Homo sapiens: one gene and its partners. The protein of the gene in region 4 purifies or fractionates together with the protein of the main gene of each other region. This does not show direct contact. Each region holds a gene or a part of one and is shown on either strand. Other genes may lie near its edges.

Region 1 (6,826 bases), on a different chromosome or scaffold from region 4:
GAGAGAAGGCAGAAAGGGAGAGACTAAATTCTTCTGATGCATTTTTTTCAAATGGAAAATACAAGGAGTTTTCAAAAAGGTCATGGACGGCGGGGTGCTGTGGCTCATGCCTGTAATCCCAGCACTCTGGGAGGCCAAGGCGGGTGGATCACCTGAGGTCAGGAGTTCGAGACCAGCCTGGCCAACATGGTGAAACCCTGTCTCTACTAAAATATAAAAATTAGCTGGGCATGGTGGCATGTGCCCGTAATATCATTTATTCAGGAGGCTGAAACAGGAGAATCGCTTGAACCCAGGAGGCGGATATTGCAGTGAGCTGAGATCACACCACTGCACTCCAACCTGGGCAACAGAGCAAGACTCCTTTTCCAAAAAAAAAAGTTAATGGAAAGTGCATATTATGAAAAAACTATGCATGTGTTTTCAGATTTTTTCTGCACTAAAAGAAATTTGTACTAACTTCTTAGAACGTGTCTGAAGAGGAGCTAGTTTGAGGCACTAAGAAGAATAAGATATCAGTTTGAAAAGAGCTCCCACTAGAGCAACATGAATTCTGCTGAAATTGAAGCAAGAACAAACATCAAATTTATGGTGAAGCTTGGGTGGAAGAATGGTGAAATCATTGATGCTTTATGAAAAGTTTACGGGCACAAAGCCCCAAATAAATCAGCAGTTTACAAATGGATAACTTATTTTAAGAAAGGACAAGACGATATTGAAGATGAAGACCACAGTGGCAGAGCATCCACATTGAGGAAAAAAATACATCTTGTTTATGCCCTAATTGACAAAGACTGAGATTAACAGCAGAAGCAATAGCCAATACCATAGATATCTCAATTAGTCTGGCTTACAGAATTCTGACTGAAAAATTAAAGTTGAGCAAACTTTCCACTCAATGGGTGCCAAAACAGTTGTGCCCAGATCAGCTGCAGAGAAGGGCAGAACTTCCCATGGAAATTTTAAACAAGTGGGATCAAGATCCTGAAGGATTTCTTTGGAGAATTGTAACAGGAGATGAAACACGGTTTTACGAGTCTGATCCTGAAGACAAAGCCCAACCAAAGCAATGGTTACCAAGGGGGGCCATGGTCCTGTCAAAGCAAAAGTGGACCAGTCGAAAGCAAAGGTCATGGCAACGTTTGTTGGGGATGCTCAAGGCATTTTGCTTGTTAGCTTTCTGGAGGGCCAAAGAATGAAAATATCTGCTTATGAGGAGAGTGTTTTGAGAGAGTTAACCAAAGCTTTTGTAGAAAAATGCCTGGGAAACATCACCAGAGAGTCCTTCTCCTCCATGACAATGGGCATGCTCATTCCTCTCATCAAACAAGGGCAATTTTGCAAGAGTTTTGATGGGAAATCACTAGGCAGCCACCTTAACAGTTCTCATGGTGGCTCATTCTGACTTCTTTCTGTTTCCTAATCTTAAAAAGTCTGTACGCGGCACCCATTTTTCTTCAGTTAATAGTGTAAATAAGACTGCATTGACATGGGTACATTCTCAGGACCCTCAGTTTTTTAAGGATGGAATAAATGGCTGATGTCGTACAAAAGTGTCTTGACCTTGATGGCAATCATGTTGAGAAAGTTTATGTTTTAAATTTTTGTCTTTTAATGCCATTTTTCCATGAACTGGTTGAAGTCCCCTCATATGTACATGTGTTACAACATAACACTAAGAGATATCATAATAATATGGTTGGCAGTATTGTTCCTGGTTTTAAAGGGCCTATTAAAAACATTCTTTTTCTCAAATTCACACAGAAACAGACACACACACACAAATGGTAGAAATCTCACTTCACTGCCAAATTTAAATATACTGTAACTACTTACCCAGGAGGAAGAGGTTTAAGTATTCATTGCCTCCTAAGTTAACAGAATTCAAGGAAAACGAGTAGAATCCCAAACTTCCAGTGAACCAGATTAGCCAAACGGTAAGTGTCCTTTTCGTAATGCTCCAGTTATAAAACAGATATGATAGGTTGTGCTTCTGAACTTCAGTGGGGCTATTACTAACAGGACCTTGTAGGTCCAGTGATAAAAGTTCTGACAGTTTACAGGAGCTTGCCCTGTTCCACTTGGCCATGATGTCAACTATTTTTTGTGCTTCTTCATATCGTCCCTCTGAGAGAAGCCAAAAAGGTGTCTCTGGGAGCACCCAACAGCACAGGATAAAGGGGACAGTCACTGTGGAGAGGATCATCTGGTAAAGCCACCAGGTCCTGACCAAGTATCCTGTCAAAGCCACCAGCAGGGTTCCAACTGCAAAAAAGGAATGCAAATGGACAGACGCCCATGTCCGAGACTTCATGCCAATGAATTCCATCACATAGACAAACCCCACCACAAGATAGCCACTTGCAACCTGAAAAACAAATAATAGGGATTTATATTCAAGGTCACATTTATAACTATTGAGGAGTCTGACCCCATTGCAAATCACATATAGGCAAAAAAGAAAATGACAAAGACTTGCTTTCTGAAACCCCTATCAGATGTATAAAATGACATTCAATCCGATCTATCTTTTTTTCTTATAGGTCCTTTCATCTTCCCTCATCCTCCCCACCCCAAATGGCAAAACTTGAGAGATTATTTATGATATAAATGTTAGACATTGTCTTTTGTGTCATCTAAATATTTCATTATACTGTGGATGTATTTCTCCATTCCTTGTAAATGCATACATCAAGTTATCTGTATCCAGGAGGTCCTTATTGTTAAATCCTAACTGCTAAATGGAGACAAAAAAATTTACGCTAACTAGTGGTAAGAAAAACTGATTTAATTAAAATTCTATTTTGACAGGCAAAGAAGACAAATTAGACTTCATGAAAATTAAAACTGTGCATCAAAGAACACTATCAATGGAGGGAAAAGGCAACCTGCAGAACTGGATAAAATATTTGCAAATCAAATATCTGATAAGGGATTTTATGGAGAACTCCTAAAATCCAACAACAGCAAAAACACAGACAATCCAATTCAAAAATGGGCAAAGGCTTTGAACAGACATTTCAAACAGAAGAAATACAAATTTTTACCAATCATTGAGAAATGCAATTCAATGCTACAAAGAGATACCCCCTCATACACATTAGTGTGGCTAATTAAAAAAAAAAATAACAAGTTTTGGCGGGAATGTAGAGAAACTGGAACCCATGTGTAATATGTGAGAGAAATGTATAATGGCACAGCCTCTAGGAAAAACAGTATGACGATTCCTCAAAAAACAATTACAGCATGATCCAGCAATTCCACCTTTGAGTATATACCCAAAGGAATTGAAAGTGGGGTCTGGAAGAGATGTTTGCACATGCCTGCTCATAGCATTATTCACAACAGCTAAAGCATGGAAGCAACCCCCCAAGGGTCCGTCCATAGATGAATAGATAAGAAAAATGTAGTCTATGCATACAATGAATATTATGCTAAGGGAAATAAGCCAGTCACAAAAAGACAACTATCATATGATTCCGCTTTCATGAGGTACCTAGAGTGGCCAAACTCATAGAGACAGGATGTAGAATGGTGGTTGTCAGGGGCTAGGGAGACAGGGAACAGAGAGTTATTATTCAATGGACAGAGTTTCAGTTTTGCAAGATGAAAACGAGTTCTGAAGATGCACAGTGGTGATAATTGCACCACAGTATGAATGCACTTAATATCACTCAACTGTACACTTAAAAATGGTTAGGATGGTAAATTTTGTGTTATATGTACTTTACCACAAGAAGGAAAACTGGGGAAAAACTTTATTTTGGAAATATGACTATCTTTAATAAAAATTAGATTACAATATGTGATTAGAATATAATATGTGACCATTCTTGAAATAAACAAAGAATGAGTCCATTGATGGGTTTTTTGGGAGGAGGAGGGGAAGAATTTTTTCTACAAAATTTTTTCATATTTGACTTCTACAACACAAATCATACAATTAACTTTTGTAAAATTATTCGAGAGCACCACTCCCCAAAGGCTTCTCTTAATCATTAGATATTTGAATCATACTCTTTCAAAGGCTCATTATGTGATTATCCTTGCAGATGTTAATTTCTTCAAAAGTTAACAGGTCTCTCTGCCAGATCCCCACTGGCCAAAGGTTGTGGGCAGGATTCAGGCAGTGTTCCCCTGTTCCCTCACTGCTTTTAAAGACTTTTTGTAAACATGTGTCCCTTGTAATAACTGCAATTTCTCCTTGCATTGGACAGTCACAAAGAGGCCGGCCTACAAGGATATTCCTGCTGTCAGAAAGGGTTGACACTAGCAGGAGGCAGGGAGGTGCTTGATGAGGACTACTGTATTCATAATCAGTTTAATATTTTTGTGACAACAGCTTTTATTTCCCTGTGCAACTTTGTAATGGCAAGACTCAGATCATCGGGACCCTACATCTAACAATCCAGAAGTCGCTTTTGGTAAGCGCTGCTGTTACATTAACAAAGATTGTGATAACTTTCAAATACTATAAATTTCCCAGTTAAATTAAGCTGTAATATTTGTCCCTGTCAGGTTTTTCAATGCTAATTATTTCTCATGAGTCAGCTACAACTTCCTCTGTTATTGGATTCAGAAAATCCATATACAACTAACTCCAAAACACTCTGTGAATCCACTCACACCCATCCCTTCCACTGATAATAATACTCACATCTTCTCGGAATCCACCCCCTCATAGCAGCCAGAATTCCTGGAATCCCTTTTGTGGATTGCCATTGCCTTTAGGAGATAGAGCAAAATCCTGACAATCCTACAAAGCCCCACCTAACCGCCTTGATCCCTTCAGCCTCATCAATGCGTCTCTCCTCCTCTCTATTCTCCAGACATTCCGGCTTTTCTTTCTCATCTCAGGGCCCTTTCATCCACTTCTATCTTTGCTGGAATATTCTTCTCTCACCCATCCCTCACAGTGAGAAAACCCTTGACCCTCCAGACCCTGGTGAACGCTCCAGACCCACTGATGTTATGCCCTCACTGTCAACATTTTATTTATTTTTGAAGATGGCTGATCAACGTCTTGCCTTTCCTACTAGACTTACTGAGACAGCTGGGTCTGGTTTACTTAGCATTACACTCTGTAGACAGATCAATAAATGTGTTGAGTAAATGAATCTGCCTGCATCTCCCATCCACAGAATTCCCCCACAAATCCATTCCCCATGAACATCAACGGAAACAGTCACAGAAAATTAAGGCCACATTTCACGGATGTATTCTATGGGTGTGGCCTTGTTTCCTTGGGTATAGAAGCCAACGCGTGGTATTTTGCAAGACTGAAACAGATATTTTCAGAAATATCCTCTTAAGTCTTCCAAAAGATGATGTTTATACTTTCTTAGTACCTGTGCCTTTGTGGAGCCTTCAGTCCCACCAGAAGGTTTCTCTCGTGAAATCTCACTCTACAGTCACAGAGTTATGTCCTCAGTGGAAACAGAACTACTGGTTGCTATCTTGTATTTAAAACTCTTTACATTCCTAAATATATATATTTACTTTTTAATGAGGTACAACACCTTCCAGTCTCCTAGATTTATTTTTATGCATCTTCCTTATCCTTGGCCAACTGTATGGTTTGCTAGAAACCCTTTCTATCCATCAAAAAAGACTCCAAAACTGACACCCCATCTTGTTCTCTGAGGGGGTGCAGAGAGATTGAAGCCCTTTGCTTCTCTCCAGACCCTCAGACCATCCAACCTGCTGCTCTGCATTTAGCAAGATCACAAGCTCCTCCTCCAGATGGAAACTTCCCTCTATTATTCTTGATGTTGCTTGATAGTTGGAAATCTATCTGGAAGCCTCACTGAGCATGGAAACAGCCTCCTTGCTCGCTAGTCCATTTCTAGTAAGTTACCATTGTAATCAGGTGCTGTACTGCGGTTGTTTATACTTAATCTCACTGAATCCTGAGAATAATAATAATAAACACAGATTCTTTTCTACAGTTTACAGACTGCAACCAAAGGTTCAAAGAGGATACTGATCATACAACTAACAAGCCAATATATGACAATGCTGGTATTCAAACTCGTGCCCTTTCCACTAAACTGCCGTTCCTGGTAACATAAGGACCTAATGCCCTCCTGTTTTCATTCTTCCTGTACATTATACAAGTGACTTTAACCACACACCTCAACTGTCTGTTTGCTCATGTGAACAGGCCCTGACTAGACCAATATGATTACTCAGAAAGAAAATAATGCCTCAGTAATTGTGACATGTGGACCACATGCCCGACACAGAGGCAAACACACTTCTGCCTAGCCAGCAACAATTTTTCACTTTAATGAGTTCCATTCTAAACATAAGGCATTGGTATTCTGTAGGCAGACTTCTGCAGTGGAGTGGACAAAGATGAGTCCTTGATCTCGCTCACTAGATCTTAAATGAGCAAAATGATGAGAGTTAAGGTTTCCTATGAAAAACTGCAGCAGAATTAAAGAAGTAAAAAACACAACTCACCATGGCAAGAAAAAAGCGAGCAGCCATGAAGGTGTAATAATCAACTGCAAACGCCGCTGCTATTCCAAACAAAAACATGCTACTGCTTGTGGCCCACAAGACCACCCGGCGTCCTAGCCTGAAAAATAAGAGTCACACAGTGGAAGAGGAAAGGTAGAGTTGTAACAGTTTAAACATCCACTCCAATTCATAAAAGATAGGCATTACCTATATACCTTGAATAGCTTATGTATTGATTGTTTTTCTTTTATTTATTTTGAGCAAACCATAAGTTCCATGGCTTCTTTAAAAGACCAGCTGTTCAGTGGAGAGGCCTTTACCTGAGTTGCTAATATACATACCTGATCACTCTGAGTCATCC
Region 2 (5,605 bases), on a different chromosome or scaffold from region 4:
TGGATGAAGCTGGAAACCATGATTCTCAGCAAACTATCATAAGGACAAAAAACCAAACACCGCATGTTCTCACTGATAAGTGGGAATTGAGCAATGAGAACACATGGACACAGGAAGGGGAACATCACACACTGGGGCCTGTTGTGGGGTCGGGGGAGGGGGGAGGGATAGCATTAGGAGATATACCTAATGTTAAATGATGAGTTAATGGGTGCAGCACACCAACATGGCACATGTATACATATGTAACTAACCAGCACATTGTGCACATGTACCCTAAAACTTAAAGTATAAAAGAAAAAAAAGGGAGTTTCCCTGCACAAGCTCTCTTGTCTGCCACCATGTGAAACATGCCTTTCACCTTCCAATAAACCTCTTTCTTTTGTAAATTGCCCAGTCTCAGGTATGTCTTTATCAGCAGTGTGAAAACAGACTAATACAGCAGCCCCCTGGGATTTAGGAAGTATTAACATAAACTTCAAATATTTTCTTTCTTTTTTTTGAGATGGAGTATCGCTCTGTTGCCCAGGCTGGAGTGCAGTGGTGTGATCTCGGTTCACTGCAAGCTCTGCCTCCCAGGTTCATGCCATTCTCTGCCTCAGCCTCCCGAGTAGCTGGGACTACAGGCGCCTGCCACCACTCCCGGCTAAGTTTGTTTTTCTATTTTTAGTAGAGACGGGGTTTCACCGTGTTAGCCAGGATGGTCTCAATCTCCTGACCTCGTGATCCAGCCGCCTTGGCCTCCCGAAGTGCTGGGATTACAGGGATGAGCCACTGCACCCAGCCAACAGATATTTCTAGCTCAGAGTTCTCTTCCCAAGTCTCTGATGTTCTTGTTTCTATGCCACCCAAGAGGATGGACAATTGGAAGAGACAAATCCAGCCACAGACAGTGCAACTTCACTCAGGGCCAGTGGAGCTCAGGACCTGCTTAGCATTTAGTGCACCTGGGGACCAGGTAGGAGCCATCCACAAGTGGTGATCAGAGCTATTCTGGCAGAGAGGGGAAAGAAGCAAGCAAGGGGGAACTGGCAGGGGTGGGGGGCTGGCCATACATGGAGATACACACTAGCAAGTGGTTAGGCAGCAGCATCGAGGGGCATGGCAGCAAGTACAGGGCTGGGGTTCAGGGACAACTGTCCAGTCCTTGAGTGATGGGAGCTAGCCCTGGAGGCTCCTGGACACAAGGGCAAAAGGCCCTGACCACAGAGCTGGAATCCTCTAAGCCTCCGCACATCCTTAACACTGGGTAGCAAGTGCTTCCGAAATGTGGCTGAAGGTGCAGGGAGCCAGGCAGGTCAGTGGACATCAGCTCTATCCCCTTCAGATACTCAGGCAGGCTCGGGAACACGTGGGCCACATCTGGCTCGGGTCATTTAGTGAAACACAACAGATGCTTCTGCCGGTTTGAAAATTTGCAACTGGCTGGCTCCACATAGCTAACAGCTGGCACTTCCCCACCCCTCCGCCTTCTGCTATGGCCATCCTCATGCATGGCTGTTCTCTCCCTGAAAACCACAGCCTCCTTAAGGTGTGCATTCTTCTGGTATTCCTCAAGGGCTCAGCACTGTACAAACCAGAAATCCAAATTTGCTAAGTAGTAACACATTTTCAAAAATATCAACAGGAACTTTTGATGCTTTAGTTGATATTTTGACTATGAAAATGAGGAATTCTAAAACACAAGAGAAAATAACATTTGATTGTAATTCTGAACTGCATTGGATTTTTATCTATTTATGTTATCCATTTATGATGTGTTTTGAGTGTTTTGCTCTATGTCCTAGATGTTATTTCATTTCTAAAAATGAAAATCATTCATAGGAAACATACAACAGGGATCCTGGTCTGGGTTTTCAACCATTTCTTTTCCAAATCTTCTAATTCAGGTTACAGCAGTGGTTCTCAATGGGAGGCGCTTTTACACGCCCCTCACCCCCGCAGTGGACATTTGGCAATGTCTGGTGATGTTTTTGTGTGTCATGACCGGGAGTGGGGTCTACTGGCAATGAGTTGGTAGAGTTCAGTGTTGCTGCTCAACATCCCACGGTGCAGGGGACAGCCACCCCAGCCACCAAGAACGACCCAGCTCCAGACGACCGTCGTGCTGAGGCTGAGAAACGCTAGGTTGCAGGGATGAAAGAAGCCAGCAACCAATTTCCATTCGTTACATCTGCAAAAAAAGTTTTATTTTACTAAATAAATTTAAAAATCGTGTTCTAGCTTCCTCTGGATTAGGAAGTGTGTGTAACATTGGTTTGCTGTTTCCAAAAGAATTGGTGGGAGAGGTAGAGACTGAAGGCTTGACTTCCTCAGAGCCACTGATAGGGAAAACGCCATCTTCTCAGGGCTGTGAGACACCTGGGAATCGATGCCTTGCAGCCCTGTTCTACCAGCTGGGAGACTTCTGCCAGTTCACCTTCCTGGACCCTGGGTCCCTCATCTGTAATGTGGATTTGATAACAGCATCTACCTCATAGAATTTCCGTGCAAATGAAATGAGTGAAAATATGTGAAAATTGCATGAGTGAAAAATACCTAAAAGCGTCAGCATGCTGCCGGCCGTGTCTGCGTGATGTGTGAGTGTTTGCTGCTGGTGTTATTCACGCATGACATAGACATTTTCCCAGTTAAACATGCTTGTATTCAGATGTTGTGGAAGAAACCTTAAGGATGAGACAAGGAACTGAATATCTCCCTTTTGCCGGTGGGCCCAGCATGGTCAGCACAGGGTCCCTGAGGGGCTTCGTCCAGCTTCCTTCCTCTTTCCTGTTCATACGGTGCCCGGGTGTGCAGTGTGGGTCTCCCAGTGGTGCCCACCTGCCAGCACATTTTGCTCACCTGTCCGACCCGTGGTTTCCTACTTGCCAGTGTTGGCCCCCAGCCCCCTATAACTTGTCTGCTTCCCAATGGGCAGTGGCAAATATCCTCTGCACAAGGAGATACAAAAATCTTGTGTATTTTAATAGAGATTTCATCTCTTTCTTAATGCAACGCAGCTGTGTATATCCTAGATCCATACAGTTCTGGGGGATGGACACTGGTGACCCCTAGCATTATGCTGGGAGTGTTTTCTTGATTATATACCCTGAACTCACAACCCTCACTCCAGCATTCTCCATGTGTTAAGACTAGATATGGTTTTGGATGATACTGACTCAGTTTCCACTTGCTAACGTCCCGAAAAGCTGACTGGCTTCACCAGCCATACTTGAAATACAACATATATGAACAGTCACTAAAAATCAGCAGGTAGCTAAACGTTTTTACTTTTGTCCTTGATGATATTGCCATCGTCTCTACTGTTACCTCCTCCTTCACTTCACTTTTTAAGTGCACTCATTCTGTGAAAACACCTTTTTTTTTAAATAGGGAAAGAAAAATGAATTGACTTGATATTCTTAAAAAATAAAAAGATGACCCAAAATATACAGAACCATTAATATGAAATTAAAGATCTTCTTTCTCAGTGGAAAAAAATTAGAACCACATTGCTGAAGTCTCTCAACATTTCATTTTTAATTTTTCTAATAGTACATTCTTTAAAAGAAGTTAACGACTTCAATTCCAAATATAAGGATTAAATAATGCAATGAAAAGCTGTCATTTTCAGTGAAGCTATTGCCTAATTACCCTGGAAAAAAGTATTCTTATGACTGAACTGATGCAAAAATCCCTTAGAAAAGCTTCATTTGTTGCCTGTAAAGAGTCTTCTTAAGGTCACTTTTACTTCTAGACTGCCCCCTTGTTTCCAGTGAAAGAGTTTTGCTTGGTAATGGCTTGTGGTTCCACAGTGTTTTGTGTATGAAAAGCGTAGACTAAGAGATACTACTGAAGTCGCTCAAATTGTAGATTCTGCCATGAAAGGAAGTCCCAACACTGTAACATTTCCCCTTAATCTTCAGCAAGACACATGAAAAAAAAAAAAAACTCAAGTCCCAACTGAATCTTTACTTTGATCATCACTTCCAGCGGCATTCAGAGGCTGCTGTGCGGTCAGACACAGAGCTCCCTCGAGGCCCCTGTGTGCTTATGAAGTACCTGCAGGTTCTGAGCGTCGGCGCCAGCCCGGGCCAGGGGTCTGCAGACAGAGGCACCTGGTGGCTGCTGGGGCTCCCTGGGGTGAGCCATGGCACGGGAGCCCCTAAGCGCCAAGCTCGCCACGGTCTTCGTCTCTCGGAAGGCAGGGGAAGAAGCAGCGCTCCCAGATAGGACAGAGAAAAGCCTATGAAACAATGCTCTCCAGTCACCAACCAGTTGCCTGATCAGAGCTGGAATTTACTGCTGGGACAAGAGTGCACTCCGATTTGCTTTCATTTTTTCCAGACGCTTCACTAAGTGGCCGTTGCTCACCTCGAGCTCTTCTGTTTTATCCAATGCAGAGCGGAGCTGGGAACGGAGGAAAGGCAGTGAGCTTTAAGGAACTTGTTTCCTCCAAACATAACAGGGTTCTGTGTTACCGAAATTCCAATCCTACTGAAAAATAAAATGATAACTTGGCCCCTGGTCCCTCATGATGCCCTTCCTCCTCTGAAACAACTGGACTCCAGAGAGGGAACACCCTTGGGGATCCTGATGGTTTTCTTTTTTTTTTCTTGAGATGGAATCTCGCTCAGTCGCCCAGGCTGGAGTGCAGTGGCGTGATCTCGGCTCACTGCAAGCTCCGCCTCACGGGTTCAAGCGATTCCCCTGCCTCAGCCTCCCGGGACTACAGGTGTGCGCCACCACCCTCAGTTAATTTTTTGTATTTTAGTAGAGACGGGGTTTTGCCATGTTGGCCAGGATGGTCTCGATCTCCTGACCTCGTGATCTGTCCGCCTTGGCCTCCCAAAGTGCTGGGATTACAGGCATGAGCCACCACGCTCGGCCTCTTTTTTTGTTTGTTTTTTTTTTTGAGACAAAGTCTCGCTCTGTCACCCAGGCCAGAGTATAACGGTGTGATCTTGGCTCACTGCAACCTCCGCCTTCTGGGTTCAAACAATTCTCTTGTCTCAGCCTCCTGAGTAGCTGAGACTACAGGTGCACACCACCACACCTGGCTAATTTTTTGTATTTTATTAGAGATGGGGTTTCACCATGTTGGTCAGGCTGGTCTTGAACTCCTGACCTCAGGTGATCTACCCACCTCGGCCTCCCAAAGTGCTGGGATTACAGGCGTGAGCCACACGCCCAGTGGGGATCCTGATGGTTTCACAAAAGGTAAGTGAGGCATGAGGTAAACAAACACAAACAACAAGAGCTGAGCCTGGACTGCATGGCGAAGGTGGTCCCCACAGCCCTGGCAGCCAGAGTCCAAGGCAGGAATGCCTGAGGCCAAGACGGCCACACCTGGGAGCCAGGGCCATGGAGCCTGAGAGTCAGGCAGAAGACGAGCTGCAGAAGCCACATTAGCAGGGCATCATCTGGACCCACAGGCAGCAGGGCAGAGTGGGGTGCCCTAAGCTGGGAGAACGTGGTTTTGGAGGGGTGACAAGAACAGGGTCTATGGCTCTGCTTTCGACCCAAAACACTCAAGGAAGCTTGTTTGGGTCCTGGGACAGAAGTCCCGACCCCACCTCACTAGCAGAGGCAGAAGCAAGCCCTTTTTGCAGGAAGTTTCCACAAG
Region 3 (6,826 bases), on a different chromosome or scaffold from region 4:
TCTACAACTATCTGATCTTTGACAAACCTGAGAAAAACAAGCAATGGGGAAAGGATTCCCTATTTAATAAATGGTGCTGGGAAAACTGGCTAGCCATATGTAGAAAGCTGAAACTGGATCCCTTCCTTACACCTTATACAAAAATCAATTCAAGATGGATTAAAGACTTAAACGTTAGACCTAAAACCATAAAAACCCTAGAAGAAAACCTAGGCATTACCATTCAGGACATAGGCATGGGCAAGGACTTCATGTCTAAAACACCAAAAGCAATGGCAACAAAAGCCAAAATTGACAAATGGGATCTCATTAAACTAAAGAGCTTCTGCACAGCAAAAGAAACTACCATCAGAGTGAACACGCAACCTACAAAATGGGAGAACATTTTCGCAACCTACTCATCTGACAAAGGGCTAATATCCAGAATCTATCTACAATGAACTCCAACAAATTTACAAGAAAAAAACAAACAACCCCATCAAAAAGTGGGCGAAAGACATCAACCGACACTTCCCAAAAGAAGACATTTATGCAGCCAAAAAACACATGAAACAATGCTCATCATCACTGGCCATCAGAGAAATGCAAGTCAAAACCACAATGAGACACCATCTCACACCAGTTAGAATGGCGATCATTAAAAAGTCAGGAAACAACAGGTGCTGGAGAGGATGTGGAGAAATAGGAACACTTTTACACTGTTGGTGGGACTGTAAACTAGTTCAACCATTGTGGAAGTCAGTGTGGCGATTCCTCAGGGATCTAGAACTGGAAATACCATTTGACCCAGCCATCCCATTACTGGGTATATACCCAAAGGACTATAAATCATGCTGCTATAAAGACACATGCACACGTATGTTTATTGCGGCATTATTCACAATAGCAAAGACTTGGAACCAACCCAAATGTCCAACAATGATAGACTGGATTAAGAAAATGTGGCACATATACACCATGGAATACCATGCAATCATAAAAAATGATGAGTTCATGTCCTTTGTAGGGACATGGATGAAATTGGAAATCATCATTCTCAGTAAACTACCGCAAGAACAAAAAACCAAACACCGCATATTCTCACTCATAGGTGGGAATTGAACAATGAGATCACATGGACACAGGAAGGGGAATATCACACTCTGGGGACTGTTGTGGGGTGCGGGGAGAGAGGAGGGATAGCATCGGGAGATACACCTAATGCTAGATGACGAGTTAGTGGGTGCAGCACACCAGCATGGCACATGTATACATATGTAACTAACCTGCACAATGTGCACATGTACCCTAAAACTTAAAGTATAACAAAAAAATAAAAATAAAAAAAAGAAAAAAAGAAAAAAAAAAAAATTAGTAAAGTTTACCTTTTAATTTTAAGATTCTGATCCTATATATGGTATATATATTATAAATGTTTTTACCAGTTGTCATTTCTAATTTTTTATGGTGTTTTATTTTTTGTAAATTCAGATATATAATAAAAATATTTTCCTTTTCAGTACTTGTTATTTCTGTCATGTTTAGAAAGCCTAGCCCATATCAAGTTTATACAGAATACTTGCCAACATTTTCCTCTACTACATTTATGGTTTCATTTTTGAAATACCAAGTTTCTAAGCTATGTAGAATTCTGATAAAAGGTATAAGAGAGGATTAAAAATACTTTTAAACAAATGGTTTAACAATTATTGGAATGTTCTATTGAATGCTCCATGTTTTGCCAACTAATTTGAAACACACATTAATCATTAACTAAATTCTTATATGCTTGATTCTATTTGAGGTCTATTCCATTTCATTTTATTCTGGCCCCAATACACTATTCAACTAAAATTATTGCAGCTTTAAATTGAGTATCTGCAGGAGCAGGCATCTTCTTCCCAGAGTGTCTTTCAAACACTCTTCCACATTTACATTTCCAGATGCTTTCCAAAAAACAAAACAAACATGTTTAATAATATGCTTATGAAATAAAGAAACAACAAAGTAGAATCTCTTATTACAGAGGGGATTTCCAACTTCTACCACAATATATGCACAAGCATTCAACAGATTTTTGAGACAGTCTCAAAAACTCAAAAACTGGGGTGCAGTGGCATGATCAGAGTTCACTGAAGCCCCAGTCTCCTGGACTCAAGTGGTCCTCCCACCTTGGCCTCCCAAAGTAAATAGATTTGTTTCAAACTTACTGCAGTTGCCACTCGAATATTTCCTGATAGGGGTCGTATCCCAGAAGGAGGCCTTCCTGTTAACCCAACTCCACCTCTTGAAACAGGGCGAGCTGCTGAAGATTTGTGATTGCTGGCCATTGTTTCTTCACTTTAATCGCTGTTTGGAAACAATAAATAGTTCAATCCTTTGATGTCTTCTCTAGCAAGACAATAATGACCCATCATACCCTTACATTTAATTCACAACAATTGTTCTTGCAAACTGCCGTTCTGTGTACCACTACAAGGCTAATTTTGTTCAAATATGACATCGTGCTCCATTTACAACTATGAGATTGTTTCTTGCAACATTCCTTCCTCATCTTTCTATTATCTTACCAAAATGCAAGCCCCTCTATTATCTATTTCTTTAGTATTCTCATCCCATACTCTGGTAAATTTTCTCTCCCATCATAGCCAACATCTTTCTTTGCCCCTAATCCTTTCTCTGCACTTTCTGGTCCATGATTAACTCTTATATTCTGAATCTTGTTACAAATACTTTCTATTTTCTTAACTTTAACAGAATCTTGATTTCCCCTGAGAGTAACACTTTCGGTAGTCCAAGTGTTTTAGCTTCCTGTCCCACAATTTTAAAGAAAAGGAGGTGGCACTTTTCTTGCTCCTCAGGGTCACTTTCAAAACATTCTTCCACACCTTTAAAAAAATTAACAAGAGGCCAGGCGCAGTGGCAAACGCGTGTAACCCCAGCACTTTGGGAGGCCAAGGCAGGTGGATCATGAGGTCAGCAGATGGAGACCATCCTGGCTAACACAGGGAAACCCCGTCTCTACTAAAAATACAAAAAATTAGCTGGGCGTGGTGGCGGGTGCCTGTAGTACCAGCTACTCAGGAGGCCGAGGCAGGAGAACGGCATGAACCTGGGAAGCAGAGTTTGCAGTGAGCCGAGATTGCGCTACTGCACTCCAGCCTGGGCGACACAGCGAGACTCCATCCCCCCACCCAAAAAAAAAAAAAAAAAACAAGATTCACTTCTTCTGAGGATCTGGGAATGCAACAATATTGCCTTGATCTTTCCTGGTTGCTGGTAATTAGTGACTTCCTAATCTCTCCTCTATCTTTACTAAAGTCTTTTGTACCTAGTTCACAGCTTCTCTATTCCAATCTCACCATCACCCTGGATGACTTCCATCTAGATACTAGATCCAATACCTAACACTCCAGCTTCACAGTTCCCTGACCTCAACTTTAGCAATGATCTTAACTCCATTTCAGTAATTTATAGCCATGGCGAGACATGGAGCTTGTCATCATCTGGAATTGCTTCACCTCAAACATCTTAATTGAAATACTCTATTCTCTGGTCTTCTCCTCTCCTACCCTTTTCTCATCTTCATTCTGCTACACCTGCCTTTAAACCATTTCCTTAATTCACTCATTCTCTCCCAGTTTATCAGCCCTCTCCTTTATTCATCAGAATATAACATTATTTAAAATTCTGTCTCATAATTTAGAGTAGTAGTTTTCAAATTGTTGGTCACATCCGTTAGTAAGTTCTGAAAACAATTTTGTAGGTTATGACCAAGATACTTAAACGTGAAATAAAATTTAAACAAAAAGAGCTCACTGAAAATATGAAGGGTAAACATTGTTTCAGTAAATTTTTGTTTCAGCTATATTTACATAAATTTACACATATGTGTTTACTGGGCTACAATATAAAAATGTATGTCCTATTGTAGGTCATATAAAATAGTTATGAAGATACTTATCTAGACAAAGAATATGGAGAAAAAGAGAATAGTGCCCAAGATTCTGTCCTGAGGAACATCAATACATACAGATTACACACAAGAGGAAAATCTAGTATGAGAGACTGAAAATTAAGGCCCAGAAAGCAAAGAAAAAAACCAGGAGTGTGTGTCAGAGACGCCAAGAGAAGGCAGGAATCTGAGCCATGCCATTTACGTTGGAAATTCAAGTAAGATGAAAACTGAAATGTCCAATGGAGTCCCCATTCAAGAAGTCACTAGTGATACCTTGACAAGGGTGTTTAAGAACTCTCCTCCTTCTCTCAAGAAATTAGTGTCTCATGAGCACTATCAACTAATTTGTATCCTTGAACTATTCTCCAGCCCATCTGGCAAAATCAGAAACCCTTCTCTACATCCAATCTGAAGTGCTGAACATTGCTGATGGAAATCATACAACTGTACAGACTGGGGTACTGCAAAGTGATAGTCACAAATCTTAGCTGGACCCTCATTTCAGAAATGATTTATCCTTGTTAAGATACTTCTCTACTTGATGATTCTCACCCTTAACTACTTTTCTATTTAACCTCTGTTCCTGCCACTCTCAGCAGATGACTCATTTAAAAAAATTACAACTTGAACTCCATCACCTTTGGGGCACATAAACTTCTCTACATCCATCCTGCCCTCCAGTCTCAACAGCCATTCCTTCTCTCATTCAAGATCAATCTTACTCTGATTTACCCTTGATCCCATCTTTTTTGTGGCATTAACCTCACTGCTACCAATTATCTTTAAACTTTCTCCTTTCCTTCAGTCTGTTACCATGTTCAATTCTTTCCTACCTTCAAAAACTTATTTCTTGATCCTGCAACCACCTCTATCTAACTGTCCCATACATCCTTCCCTTATGCAGCCAAATTCCTAAGAATAGCTTATATCCAGCCGGGCGCGGTGGCTCATGCCTGCAATCCCAGCACTTTGGGAGGCCGAGGCGGGCGGATCACGAAGTCAGGAGATCGAGACCATCCTGGCTAACACGGTGAAACCCTGTCTCTACTAAAAAATACAAAAAATTAGCCGGGTGTGGTGGCGAGTGTCTGTAGTCCCAGCCAATCGGGAGGCTGAGGCAGGAGAATGGCGTGAACCCGGAAGGCAGAGCTTGCAGTGAGCTGAGATCGTGCCACTGCACTCCAGCCTGGGCGACAGAGCGAGACTCCGTCTCAAAACAACAACAACAACAACAACAACAACAACAACAAAAAGAATAGCTTATATCCACTATTTTCTACTGCTTCATTTCCCAGTATCTCCTGGATTGCTACCGTTTGATTCAAATGACCCCTGCCAATATTGCCAGTGCTGTAAATGTCATCCTACTTTACTGGTGTCCACATTTATATGAAACATCTCCATGACACTTCCCTCTCTTCTGGTTCTTTTTTCTGTCTCCTTGATCTGTCCTTATATAGAGCATTTTCTAAGATACCATCCACCATCTTTTTCTTTTCTCTCTCTAAACTCCCCTTGGGCCCCCTTATCCACACTCAGGGTTTTAACAATTAATAAACTGATTCCACACAACTTCCTTATTTTAGCACTCAGCTTGCGGTGTTTATATCCAAATAATAACATCTCCACTTAGATGTCTAAATATTTCAAAATAAACATATGTAATCCAAACTCATTATCATCTGCTCAAAATTTGTCCTTCCTCTTGGTGTCACCTCCTAGTCACACAAGTAAGAAATTTAGTCCTTGACATCTTCCTCTCCCTTACTCCCATGGCTGGTCACATAGTTCTACTGAGTTTGTTTTGTTTAGTTCTACTGATTTTGTTCCTAAGTGTTTAACAGGTACTTTACTCTCTATTCCTACAGCACTGGCCAATTCAGGGCATCACTGACTCAGGTGGACTATTATACCAGCCTCTTAAGTGGTCCCCTTGCCTAACACACATTTTGCCTATTACTTTCTCTGGGAATCCTTCCATGACCAGTCCATAACTGGTCTTGGAATCTTCGTCTTCTTCAATTTCAGTGTATAGGCCTGTTCTACATGCTACCATGCATCCTGTGTATTACTTTATTCCAGAACCTATCACACCACTTGAAATGATCTGCTTAAGTATTTCTCACCCTTTATGGCAAGAGCTGAATCTTAATCATCTTTATATCCCCAAAATCTGTCTCAGTGATAAGCAAAAACTTTGTTCTCTCTTGTATCTTTTAAATTTCCTCGTACATAAAGGTATTGCCAATTACAAAAATTTACTAAATTGTTAAAAAGCAAACAAAGCGACCGGGAGCGGTGGCTCACGCCTGTAATCCCAGAACTTTGGGAGGCCGAGGCGGGTGGATCACGAGATCAGGAGATGGAGACCATCCTGGCTAACATAGTGAAACCCTATCTCTACTAAAAATACAAAAAAAAAATTATCCGGGCGTGGTGGCGGGCGTAGTCCCAGGAGGCGGAGCTTGCAGTGAGCCGAGATCGCGCCACTGCACTCCAGCCTGGGCGACTGAGCAAGACTCCGTCTCAAAAAAAAAAAAGGCAAACAAAGCGTGTGTTGGACTAAAATGATTTCTCTGTTTCTACACTCTATGTCCAGTACTACTTTTCTGACTTTTCTTAGCATTACTCGTAATCAGTCCTTGGACTGCTTCTATCCTTTCTACAGTCATGCATCTTTATAACTCCAACTATGTGTACGGCTCACTAATCAATGTCTACAGTTCTGCCCTTTCAACTGGGCACCAATTTTGAGTTTTCAATTGTTTATCTGAAATTTCCATTCAGATATCTCATTTGAATATGTTCACATCAATCTTCCTGACCCCACTAGCTCCCTGATTCTAATTCCTTGCCATTTTGAACTCTATGTACAAAGCAAAAGAATTT
Region 4 (5,432 bases):
TATGTATCAATTTATAAAAAGCAAAAGGGCCGGGTGCCGTGGCTCACGTCTGTAATCCCAGCACTTCAGGAAGCCAAGGCGGGTGGATCACGAGGTCAGGAGATCAAGACCATCCTGGCTAACACAGTGAAATTCTGTCTCTGCTAAAAATACAAAAAATTAGCTGGGCGTGGTGGCATGCAGCTACTCAGGAGGCTCAGGCAAGAGAATCGCTTGAACCCGGGAGGCAGAGGTTGCAGTGAGCCGAGTCTGAGCCACTGCACTCCAGCCTAGGTGACAGAGTTGAGACTCTGTCTCAAAAAAAAAAAAAAAAAAGTGAAAGTATTTGACAAAATCTAACATCCATTTCTGATTTAAAAACATGAAAAACCAAAAATTTCTCAGCAAATTTGAAACAGAAGGGAACTTCCTCAACCTGATAAGGGCATTTACAAAAAACCCCACAAAAAAACCCCTAAATCTAATAGCACACTTAACGGTGAAGGATTGAATTATTTCTCTCTAAAATCATGAATAACACAAAGATGTTCACTGTCACCACTTCTAGTCAACATTGCACTCAAGGTTATAACTAGTGCAGTAAGGTAAAAAGAATAAAAAAGGATTAAAAAAGAAGTAAAACTACCTTTATTTGCAGATGACGATTGTGTAAATGTACCCAGAATTTTCTTTTTATTGTCAATTATTCCCCAAATTCATCCAGTGATACAACATAATTCCAAACAAAATCACAGCAGACTTTAATGTAGAAACTGAAAAGGTGATTCTAAAATTCATATGGAAATGCAAATGTCTTCAAATAGCCAAAACAACTTTGAATAAGAACAAAGTGGTATGGCTAACACTACACAATTTCAAGGCTTACTATAAAGCTACAGTAATTAAGACAGTGTGAAAATGACATGATGATAACAGATCAACTGAACAGAAAAAAAGAGTCCAGAAATAGATCCACTTACACGTGAACAGAGATACGAAGACAATTCAATTGAAGACAGGTCAGTCTTTTCAACAAATGGTGCTGGCACAACTGGATAGCTTTTTTTTTTTTTAAAGAATTTGAATCTATAATCATGAACCATATACAAAAACTAACTCAAAATGGGACCTTTTACCTAAATGTAAAACCCAAAGCTATAAAACTGCTAGAAGAAAACATGAGAGAAAATATTTGTGACCTTAGGTGAGGCAATGGTTTCTTAGATAAGACACTAAAATCCCAATCTATAAAAGAACAAACTGACAAATTGGACATGTTCAAAATGTAAAACGTCTGCTCTTTGAAACACAGGGTTAAAGAGCATGAAAAGGTAAGCCACGGGGCATTCCTGTAGGCTATTGAGGACTTCATCAACAGGCTACACTAAATTTACTGTTAAAATGTTTCTTTCTTCAACAATAAATTAACCTTACCTTACTGTAACTTTTTTACTTTATAAACTTTTTAATCTCTAACGTTTTACCTCTTTTGTAATAACACTAAGCTGAAAATACAACACACCATACAGCTGTACAAAAATATTTTCCTTCTTTATATCCTCATTCTATAAGCTTTTTCCAATTAAAAAATTTTTGTTGGTAAACTTTCTTGTTAAAACCTAAGACACAAACACACACATTAGCCTAGGCCTACACAGGGTTGGGATCATCAATGTCACTGTCTTCCATCTCCACATCTTGCCCCACTGGAAGGTCTTCAGGGGAAATATTAATAACATACATGAACCTGTCATTTCCTGTGATGATAATGCCTTCTTCTGGATAATTCTTGAAGGACTTGCCTGAGGCTGTTTTACAGTTAACATTCTTTTTAGAAGTATAAGCAGTATACTCTAAAATAACAATAACAAGTATACTATAGTAAATACATAAACCAGTAACAAAGTCGTTTTATGATCGTTTATAAATATTATGTGATGTATGCAATGGTATGTGCTACATTGTTGTGTAACTGGCAGCCCAGGTTTGTTGTTTATACTGGCATCACCACAAACACAACGTCACTGGGCAAGAGAAACTTTTCAGGTCCATTATAATCTTATGGGACTACCATCATATATATAATAAATCACATGACTGTGTATGAATATACAAACATACACTCTCAAAACGCAGTAAGAAAGCAAATAATCCATTACAAATGGGAAAACTATATGGATGGTCACTTAGCAAAAAAAAGACATATGGATGGCAAATAAGCATATGAAAAGATGCCCTACACCACTAGTCATAAGGGAAATGCAAATTTAAGCCACAGTAAGATACCACTTAACATCTATTGGAATTGCCAAAATTTAAAAGACAGACCATAGCAAATGCTGACAAGAATGTGGAGGAAATAGAACTCTCACACACTGCTCATAGGTATGTAGAACTGTAGGTACAAGCACTTTGGAAAACAGTTGGGGCAGCTTCTTAAAAAGTAAAACACATACCTACATCTGATCCAGCCATTCCACTGGCAAGTAAATGGCTTGCCACCCAAGAGAAAAGAAACCACATGTTCATTCAAAGACTTGCATAAGAATATTAAAAACAACTTTATTTAATAGCCTCAAATTGGAAACCCACATTTCCATCACCAGGTGAATAAATGAACTATGGAATACTGCAAAATGGACACTTAGTACTCAGCAATAAAAAGAATGAACTATTGATATATACAACATGGACAAATCTCAAAAGAGAGTACTGCATGATTTATGATATACTGACATAAATTTCTAGATAATGCAAACTCATCTGTGACTACTTGGAAAAGAAAAGAAGGAAGGGATTACGAAAGGGCACCACAAAACTTATGGGGGTGATAAATTCATTATCTTGAACTTATGGTGACAGTTTCAGGGTGTGTACATATATCAACACACATCAAAGTTTACACTTCAAATATATATAGTGTGTAATACGTCGACTGTACCTCAATAAAACTGTTTTAAAAATCACTGTCATTCTGCTTCAGCTGGAAGTGAAAGACACACAGCAACCAAACTGTCAGTAAAAAAACAAAAAAAATGTACAAGACATACGGTTATTCTCTTGTAAATTTCCATATCATCTATGCTTGTCATACTAACTCATTTTGTAAGGTGAATTTTGTTTTGTTAGTCTGGCAGGTTTTATGTAGTTGCTATAAAGTATAATGAATGACTAGAGGAGTTAAAAATAATTGTTACTTTATGTCAGAATAAATATGCTATAAACTATTAAGGTATTCTCCATTCATTTATTCAATGTTTCTAGTCAGTTACTTATAGAACAGTGGGCCAAGAAAAATATGTTTTAAAAACATAAGAGCTCCACAAAACTCCTATGATTCACATCAATTGTCAGATTCAGTTCTATTTTATCATTTTGTCCTTATTGTCCCATCCATGCCCTGTATACATCCCTATCACAGCATTTAAAATACTTTATTAAACTTTCTAGTTTATATGTTTATTTCTTATAATGGTCTTAGTTTTTTCAGGTAGAAGGCATGTTTGATTAATTTCTATATCCTCAGCTCCTAGTACAGCACCTAGCATATACACCATCTTAAAGTTCCACTAAGGGACTTAAAGGAAGATCTGAATAAATAATGTAACATTGTTCATGGATGTCAAGATGTCAATTTGACTCCAATTAATCTATAAATCCAAAACAATTCATTTTTTTAAAATCCTATGAAAATTGTATAAAGTCTGTGGTCTAGTTAATAGTACTGCACCAATGTCAATGTCCTAATTTTGTCCTCATTTTGATTACACTACAGTTATAAAACAGGTCAACATTAGGGGAAGCTGAGTGGACGATTCTAAAACCTCTATGTGCAATTTTTGCAACTGCCTTTGAGTCTTCAATTATTATTAAAGACTTTTAAAAATCCCATGAACATAGCAAGTTTTCCAAAATTGCATGGAAACATAAAGGTCGAAACATAGTTGTCAACTTTAAAAAAAAAAAAAAAAAACGAAAGCGGGGCAACTAGCACTATCCGATTTTTGGACACATCACAAAGCCACAGAAGGAAAGAGAATATGATGATGACAAAAGAGCAGATTAATGAACCAATGGATTATGACAGAGAGCTCAGAAACAGACCCGTATATATAGGATAACTTGACATAAACCAGCCAAGGTTGGGTTGTCACGTGATGGGATTAAGAAAACTGGCTTGCTCTATGGAGAAAAATAGGTTCTTATCACACTTGAAACAAAGATAGAATCCAAATTAAAGACCTAAAAATGAACAGTAAAACTATGAAGCTATTATGGAAGAAAATGTAGGAGAACATCCTGGTGATTTGGGGACAGGGAAGGAGTTCTTAAGACAAGCCACACACCATAAAGCAAAACATTGGCAAGTTCTGCATTAAAAGTAAAGATTTCTGTTCAACAAAGGGCACCACAGAAAAAAACAACAGATGGGTGACACACTAGAAAACATTCGTAATGCCTAAATGGAGAATGAACACCCACAGAGTATACAAGGTACCCATGCAAATCAACATGAGAAGGACAATAAACCCAATGTTTAAAAGTAGACCACAGAAATTAGGCAATTCACAAAAAGGAAAAAAAAAAATTTTAAGTATACTGCTCACAAGCATATACAAAGATAATTAAACACTAATAATTAATGAAATTCAAATTAAAACAAAGCAATAACTATTTCACAATCTTCAGACTGGAAAAATTAGAAAGACAATACCAAATGTTGGTAAGAAAGTGGAGACGAGGTACCCTCTCCTGCACCATCATGGGAAGGCAATGTGCAATTGTCATCCTGGAAAGCAATTAGTTTGTGAAATGAGATACGCACCTACTTTATGGCGCCATCCCATCCTAGGGGCAGTCTCAGAGCAATTATGGCACAAGACTATATAAAGGGACATGAATGAGTATGTTTACCAGAGTTGTTTGTGATAGCAGGGAGTTGGAAGTTACCTAAAAGGTCTGTTAAGGAAGCTCTTTTAGATACTTTGGAATCCTATGCTGTCAGAAGCAGTGAAATGGTTGTACACACAGCAATATGAAGAGATCTTGAAACAGTATTGTGTCACCATATTAAGAAGCAGAACAAGATCTACAACATAATCCCAGTTAGGCAAATTAAACTCACACATGCATGTGTGCGCACACCCATACACAATAGTGCTATCTATTTTATAGCAACAACTAACGTGGTTGCCTACAGGGATTGTGGATGAGGCAGGAAACGGGAGTGAAAATTAGGGAGGAAGAAAATCAACAACAGAGGAAACCTTTTAAGGAATCAATCATGAAAATGATGAGTCATCAACTGAGTAGTAGTAACTCAATTTTCTGAGGTCCATTAAAAAAAAAACCAGGTATAACTGTAAAACTTGTATACAACCTTGCATGTTGAAAGGATCAAATAAAATGATGTAAGCGATATATATGAAAGTATTCCACAGACTTGTGAAGCA
Region 5 (6,826 bases), about 130 Mb from region 4:
AGAGAGCAGCCTCGTCCTCACTCTCCCAGATGGCCCAGCAGCCGCAGACTCCCACCCGAGGACCCAAGGCTTCCGCTCCCTCGCACCCCCAGGCTGGAGCCCCCCCCACTCCTCGCTTTGTGCTTTGCGTCCAGCCCAGTGCTCCCTAGCTAGGGTCAGTGGTGCTGCTGCCCTTCACCCTCAGGGGCCCTGCCTACTGTCCCCACTCAGCCCGTCTCAAGTTTCAAAAGGGCAGCTCCAGAGCTGAGTGGCCAGCGAGCCCGGCTGGGGCAGGAGCAGGAGCTAGTCATGGTACCTGGGGCAGGAAAGGGGGCGTTGAAGAACGCAGAAACCTGAGGCGTGTGGGGGGCCAGGGGCAAAGGGAGGGTGATGAGGGTCTTGGTGCGGAGGGACCAACGCGGGGGTGCTCAGGGCAGCCCCCGTTCTCAGGCCGGGACCCTTGTCCCCGGGTGGGCAGCAGGGCCCAGTCCAGACGGCACGGGCACGCCCTCACACCTGCCAGCCTGTGGGGTGAGGGACGCGGCAATGCGGCGGTCTGTCGGCACTGCTGGTTCCCAGTCTCTCGCCCAGGCTGCCAGTGACACTGCGACGCCATCTGCTCCAGGCAGGGACACACTGGCATCACGTGCCCGCCTGGCAGGACCGGGTGCAGCAGGAGGGGTTACCTCCCTTTCCACTTTGTGCTCTTTAAAAAAATGCCAGTGTGAGGCTCACGGCAGGAGTTCTGACAAGAACAGGAGGCACTTTTTCAAATGCTTTGCAGTGTTAAAAAATGCACATAAAATAGCTGGCTGGAAAAGAAGCAAGGGCTGCCTGAGAAGTGCTAAAAAGTTCAACTGAATAACCCCCAGCAGCTCCACAGCAGAAGGCGCCATGCATTCCAGAGAACTTTCACTTCCCCGGGATCTTCTCAGAATAGACTCGGCTCCCACCAGCCCCACCCCCTGCTCGGTGCCCCAGTGCCAGCTCTGGGCACCGCTGGATGTCAGGCTCTGCAAGGCAAGCGGGGTGGGGGCCTTGCAGTCAGAGGTTCCTCAGCACCTCCAGGCCCTGCTCCGGCCAGCACCCACTGGACAGCTGCTGCCTGGCCCAAGGGACAACATCCACGATGACCGGGGCACGCAGGCAGCCCCAATTCCCAGGCCAGCACTCTCCCAAGAAGTTAGGCAGGGCTGCGCCAAGCCCTGGTCTGCTCACAGCGCGCCCACCAGGCCCTCCAGGGCACGTCCGTCTGGCACATGGAGGCTGTGCCCTTGGGAGAAGGCAGCCAGCGGCAGAGGGTGCCCCAGAAGAGGCAGTGTGGGGCGGGGGCAAGCCGACAGGGCCTTCGTCACCCCAGGGAGGGTGGGCAGGTGACCAGCAGGGGAGGCGCAGAGGCCGGACGTGCCAGGAACACGCAGCAGCTGGCCCACAGCAGGGAGGGCCACGGCCACAGGTGGCTGGGGGCTTTGGGGACACAGAACAAGCCAAGGCCAGCCCTGTGGCCAGAGACTGGGGCCTCTGCCCCACCACAGGAGCCATCAGGCTCATGGTGGCCACATATGGGCCATGCTCACTGGGGGCCCACACAGGATTCTGTGGGGAGGGACCCTGGAGCTCAGGCCTTCAGGTGGCAGGCGGGCCCAGGAGGGAGGGCTCGGCTTCAGGGACTGGGGAAGCTGGGGGTAGAAGCCATACTGTCCTCTGCCGTCAGGGGCCCAGAGCCCAGGGGGTCAGCCAGGACAGCCACCCCCACCCCTTCCAAGAAGGCTGCTGCACTTTCTTGTTGAAGTCAAATTTCTGCTGACACCAGGGGAGGAAATTTATTTCTTTAATTATTATTCCTCTTAAGTGGGCTGGTCAGCGGTATCCCACAGCTGGGAGCCATCTACCTTCCTCATGGCGAGGCGGGGCCGGTGGTGGCCCAGGCAGCTGGAGCTGTGGCCTCGCCTGTCGACCCAAAGGGCGAGTGCGGCCTCACTGGGCTCTGCACAGCCCCAGGACTGCCACAGTCGCCACCAAGGCTGGCCAGCGGGACACCGGAGGCCATAGCCCTACTCGATGGCAGGCGGGCCTCCCCAGGGGCAGGGGTGGGAGCAAGGAGGCCCCTGGACCCCTGCCTGCCCTGGCTGGCACCAGCCTCTGTGCGCCAGACCCTCCTTGCTGGCGTTGCTGAGGCTGAATGAAGGAGTTCTGGGTTGCTGCTGGTGCAGGGGTGAGACATGCCCCAGAAGGGCTGGGGGAACCAGACTGGCTCTCTGATGGCTCTGGGCCAAGGGAAGGGCCAACGGAGGCAGAGGCCAGTCAGCAAGGGTGGCCGGGATAGACTGTTCACAGTGTGGTGACGTCAGGGGCTCTGCGCCCGCCAGGGCTCTGCCATGTGTGTAAATGGCAAGGCGAGATTCTGCGGAGCTCAGCACTTGGCACCGACGGGGAGACACAGCAGCACCACAGCCTCCCAGGGAGGAGTGTGCAGCCCCTCCCTCTCCTCCCCACTGCTGAGCGGGCCAGGGCTATGCACTCCCTCCTCCCCAAAGCTCAGACCCTGGGCCATCCGGGTGGTGGGCACCGTGTCTGAGGGGGCCAAGTGCAAACCTGCTGCCTGCCACAGGCGTCTCTGTGGACACTGAGGGATGGGAGAGCTGGGATGGCAGGTGCACCTCCCCACACAGGCCCACCCAGCCCAACAAACGTGGGCCACAGGATCCCGGCGAGGGCTGAGACGACCCAAGGGCCCCGGTGCGGGGAGACGGACCCATGCCACAAGCCCCTCCGTGGGTCCCGCGGGTGCACGGTGCAGGGAGAATCCCAAGGACGCACCGCGACCTGGGTGAACAGGCGGGGCCAGCCTTGGCCCTGTGCAGGGAGTGGGATGCAGCTGCTGCAGTGGGGGCCACTCCCTGAGTGGGTGGGTCCTCCCTGGGATGGGCTCTGGCTCTGGAAAGGGCAGTAGGCATCCCCTCCCTGGCTCCAGCTTCCGCAGAGCAGGGCAGGGCCTGCAGACTGACTGCCAGGAGCAGCCTCTGCTGCCTATCCTGGCCGCCTGGGGCTCTCGCGTACGTCAGGACATCATGGTCTCCATGGCTGCTGTCTTGGCCACTTAATTATCAACCTCAGTCAGTACTACTATCGTGACTACCGGGAGCTTTCTGAATGTGGGTGCAGTGGTGCCAGGTAGACCCCGCCTGCCCCCAACCCATCTCCTCCCCCTGCTGGCTGTGCACAGGGTCCTGCGATGCCTCACGCCCCCTCCCACTCCTGCCCAGGCCTCTGCATGGCGGCCTCAGGATGCTCTTGCTGCTTCTGTCCCTTCTGGGCCCTCTCAGTTTTCAGCTCATGAGAAAGGCCTCCCTGACCACCTGACTGGACACGAGTCTGCGTATTTACACCTGTGGGCCCCAGGAATCTTCACTGGTGTTCAGCCCACGCCTCTCCCTGCACTAGGGACGTCAGAGGCAGCATCCATGGGAGATGCAGGGCACCCTCCCACCCAGGCAGGCAGGTGAGGGCTCGGGGTGCCCTTCCCTGGGCAGAGGGATCAGCCTGGCTGCTCTGCCCACTGCCTCTAGGACCAGAGAGGAAAGCCAGTGCCAGGACTGTGCCTGCAGTGTCAGTGCACTCAGGACAGTGCCAGCCAACGTGGGGCTTGGCCTCTGCCAAGGAGGCCCAGGGGAAGGTGGGACCACCCGGCATGAGCAGAGAGGCACCTCATGGCTTTGTCCCTGGGGGTCAAGCACGATGTCCTCAGAGCACCTGCTGCTGGCCCCGGGAGCTCCACTGGTCAGGGTCCCTGTTGGCTCACATGGCTGGTGGCTGGTGGACGGCCACAGGCGCCTGGGACCTGCTGTGCCAGAGACTGGCCAGGGGCTTATACTTCACTCAGGGAAATGACTGCTGGAGAGAAGCCCGAGGCCCCTCCCCTCCACGATACAAACAGCTGTGTGTAGCCCCACAGGCCACCAAGCTCCAGAGTCCGAGGATCAGAGGTAACCAGAGAAGGCCCTGCTGGGTGACAGGAAGGCCTATCCCCCAACCCACGGCAGCATCCCCCAGGGGCAAAGCCTCACCAAGGCCCCCATGTTCTGAGCCAGCTCCTGCACTGAGCACCCGGGGTGTAGCAGAGATGAGACCACACGCACAAATCACACAGCCCAGTCCCTCAAGGTACGGGTGGGGAAGCGGAGGCACACACAGGGGTGACACAGTGCCCAGGAAGGGACCCAGGGCTTCTCACCAGATCCTCAGTGAGTGGGAGGCACACACAGGGGTGACACAGTGCCGAGGAAGGGACCCAGGGCTTCTCACCAGATCCTCAGCGAGTGGGGATTTATTCCTGCCCAGTTCACCAGGACCCCCCAGCCCCAGCCACCAGGCTACAGGCATGGTCATGGGCACTGACCAGCCACAGTGTGGCTCAGAGCCCTGTGGGGCAGGTGCCAGGGCCCCCGTGCTGCTCCCAGCGACTCTGCCCAGGAAACAGCCCAGAAGCCCCTGGAGCCCAGAGATGGATGCTAGGAACACAGCCAGGCAGGGCGGCCAGTGAGGCTGGCTTCCAGGGAGGTACGCTTCCTGCCTCTCCTCTGACCCCCGCAGACCCTGCCGTCGGAGTCTACCTCCTCCAGGGGCTGAACCTGTTCTCTCTCTAGGTCCCAGGCGGGTCGGGGAGCCAGCATGGCCCAGCCTCTGCAATCCCAACACCACCTGCAATCTCCCTCTTTTTTTTTGATGGACAAGAAAGGGGGTAAAATTGGACTGAAACCAAAATATTTTTCTAGTTAATTTGTAGGATAAGTGAATCCAAAGCATTTCCTTCTCCTGAGCCTGTTTCCCTGGGCTGGGAGGGCGCAAGGTGGCGGCGCCGGCTGCCTCCAGACACAGTTGTCGAGGCGTCGCCAATGCGATTACGGGCGCCGCGGCCCCAGGTGTGCGCTCGCCCGGGCGTGTTTGCCGTACCTGGCATCATCCTTTTTCCAAAAGCGAAACATGGTGCTTGTGAGCAACTCTCCCCCACCCCACAGAAAATCAGGGGCCGCTCAGCCACGCGAGGTGGGCGCCACTCCAGGGCCCTTCCTGGGGGATGGCAGAGGAAGGCCTCCTGGCACCCTCCATTCTCCGGCTGCCCTGTTGGTCTCACTAGGGATGGCTACGAAGGCGCCGGGTGTATGGAAGAGTGAAATTAACTCCCAGGATGGGACGTGACCCATTTGGGAAGTGCTTGTTTGGACTGGCTCCCTGGGAGCATGAGGCCCCTGACCTCCTCCCCAAGACAGGGGCGTGAGCCAAGGCCCAGAGCAGCCACAGCATGTTGGAGGTTAGGGGGTCTGGCCTGCAATGCCCACCACACGCTAGCCGGTCGGTGTCATCTCCCAGCGCCCCCGCCCTCACCTCTCACCTGTGCGCAGGAGGGGCCTGCTGCCCGCATCACTGGGCTGGCCGGAGGTCTTGGAGAGCTTGTTGGCAGATACTTTGTAGAGGACCCCTCCGATGCAGCGGTAGCCTTTGCTCCGCCACCAAGGGGAGCCCGGTTGGGCTTTCCCACCCCCGCTGGCAACTGGACGCAGGCGGTTCAGCACCAGGGACCTGCAGAGACAGGAAATGCCCGTCAAACCTGGCCCCAGGACAGACTACAGCTCTGATGGTCAGTGCCAGGGGCCGAGCCCAGGCCTGGCCTCCCAAGGGGGACAGGGAGCAGCACTTGCGGTGGGTACACACTCCAGCTGGGTGACCACGGGCCATTGGCCCAGCTGCCAAGAGACCTCTGTCCCCCTCTGGCCCCCAACCCCCACCTCAGGGACATTTTGGCCGTCATCAGGGAACACTGACAAGGAGTCCCAGGAGGTGGCGCCCCCGACCCCACCCACGAGGCTGGGAACTCATGCGCCCCTAGAAGCCACGGTGAGAGGGCAGCGTCGTCCTCCAGTGCACACCTCCCCGTGGATATAACCACCCCTGGGCCCTGACCACCTGGCTGTGTGCTGCAGGGTAAGGGTCCCTGGGGCTGCAGGGCAGAGGGGCTGCAAGGTGTCTGCGTGTTGGTGAGAAGCACACCTGGCCCTTGGCACCTGGGCTGAGGCTCCCTTGAGTCGGCTTCAAGGCTGGGGCTATTTCTACCAACCGGCCCCAGCACATACCACCCTGGCCGTCAGGACCACAGACACCATAGGGTCAGCAGGCTACCCTGCCTCTTCTCCTCCTCCACCCTGTCCTGCCTCCCCTTCATCCACAGCTCAGAGAGCCCTGCACTGAGAGGGCATGGGGACAGCCTCACAGACCCCGGGCCAGGCTGTTTGAGGGAAATGCTGATGTTGCCTCAAGTCCAAGGGCTGAAGAGGCCGCGACAGCCCCTGGAGTTAGCTGAGCTGATGACCCTGGCTAGAGGAAGAGACCTAGGCCGACAGACCCTGAGCCCTGGCAGCCCCCACTCCTGCCAAATACTCCACAGCCTCCAGGAAGCCAAGGGGCAGAGTAAGACAAGAGGGGCCTGAGCTGCACTCCAGAGGCACCTCCCTGCAGCTGCCAGCCACACCCACAGCCCTGCGGACCCTCGGGCAAGCAGCCCCCAAGGTGGGGGGCTCAGGGCCTGGCAAATTGAGCTTGATTCCACATGAGCTCACGCTCTGCTCAAGCTGCCATGACCCCTGAGGTGGATACCACACCCCCAGCAAATCTGGGCAAGACATTTTTGGGCAGCCATGGGTGCGCAGGCAGCAAAGGGACCAGTCAAGTGGGAGGCGAGGACGGGCAGCTCAGGCCTGGCACAGGGCTGTGCCCCTGCTCTACGCTCCCCATCCCACACTGGTCCCCATGGCCCTGCAGCTACACAGCCCTCTCTGCTGTGGAGTACCTG

The links.
Region 1: the proteins of MTMR9 (region 4) and SLC22A16 purify together in Homo sapiens (co-immunoprecipitation; one large-scale study listed by IntAct). This does not show direct contact.
Region 2: the proteins of MTMR9 (region 4) and LRRFIP1 purify together in Homo sapiens (co-immunoprecipitation; one large-scale study listed by IntAct). This does not show direct contact.
Region 3: the proteins of MTMR9 (region 4) and IFT74 purify together in Homo sapiens (co-immunoprecipitation; one large-scale study listed by IntAct). This does not show direct contact.
Region 5: the proteins of MTMR9 (region 4) and ZC3H3 purify together in Homo sapiens (affinity purification with mass spectrometry; one large-scale study listed by BioGRID and IntAct). This does not show direct contact.

The regions. Positions count from the first base shown.
Region 1 is NC_000006.12:110,440,408-110,447,233, forward strand, and holds part of SLC22A16 (solute carrier family 22 member 16), read right to left. Parts: intron 6,584-6,826; coding exon 6,466-6,583; intron 2,369-6,465; coding exon 1,837-2,368; intron 1-1,836. UniProt on the Homo sapiens protein: Facilitative organic cation transporter that mediates the transport of carnitine as well as the polyamine spermidine. Mediates the partially Na(+)-dependent bidirectional transport of carnitine.
Region 2 is NC_000002.12:237,778,206-237,783,810, reverse strand, and holds the end of LRRFIP1 (leucine-rich repeat flightless-interacting protein 1), read right to left. Parts: intron 4,390-5,605; coding exon 4,279-4,389; 3' UTR 2,168-4,278; downstream 1-2,167.
Region 3 is NC_000009.12:26,957,451-26,964,276, reverse strand, and holds part of IFT74 (intraflagellar transport protein 74 homolog), read right to left. Parts: intron 2,329-6,826; 5' UTR 2,310-2,328; coding exon 2,190-2,309; intron 1-2,189. UniProt on the Homo sapiens protein: Component of the intraflagellar transport (IFT) complex B: together with IFT81, forms a tubulin-binding module that specifically mediates transport of tubulin within the cilium. Binds beta-tubulin via its basic region. Required for ciliogenesis.
Region 4 is NC_000008.11:11,289,384-11,294,815, reverse strand, and holds part of MTMR9 (myotubularin-related protein 9), read right to left. Parts: intron 1-5,432. UniProt on the Homo sapiens protein: Acts as an adapter for myotubularin-related phosphatases. Increases lipid phosphatase MTMR6 catalytic activity, specifically towards phosphatidylinositol 3,5-bisphosphate and MTMR6 binding affinity for phosphorylated phosphatidylinositols.
Region 5 is NC_000008.11:143,470,027-143,476,852, forward strand, and holds part of ZC3H3 (zinc finger CCCH domain-containing protein 3), read right to left. Parts: exon of another isoform or gene 5,583-6,826; intron 5,560-5,582; coding exon 5,372-5,559; intron 1-5,371. UniProt on the Homo sapiens protein: Required for the export of polyadenylated mRNAs from the nucleus. Enhances ACVR1B-induced SMAD-dependent transcription. Binds to single-stranded DNA but not to double-stranded DNA in vitro. Involved in RNA cleavage.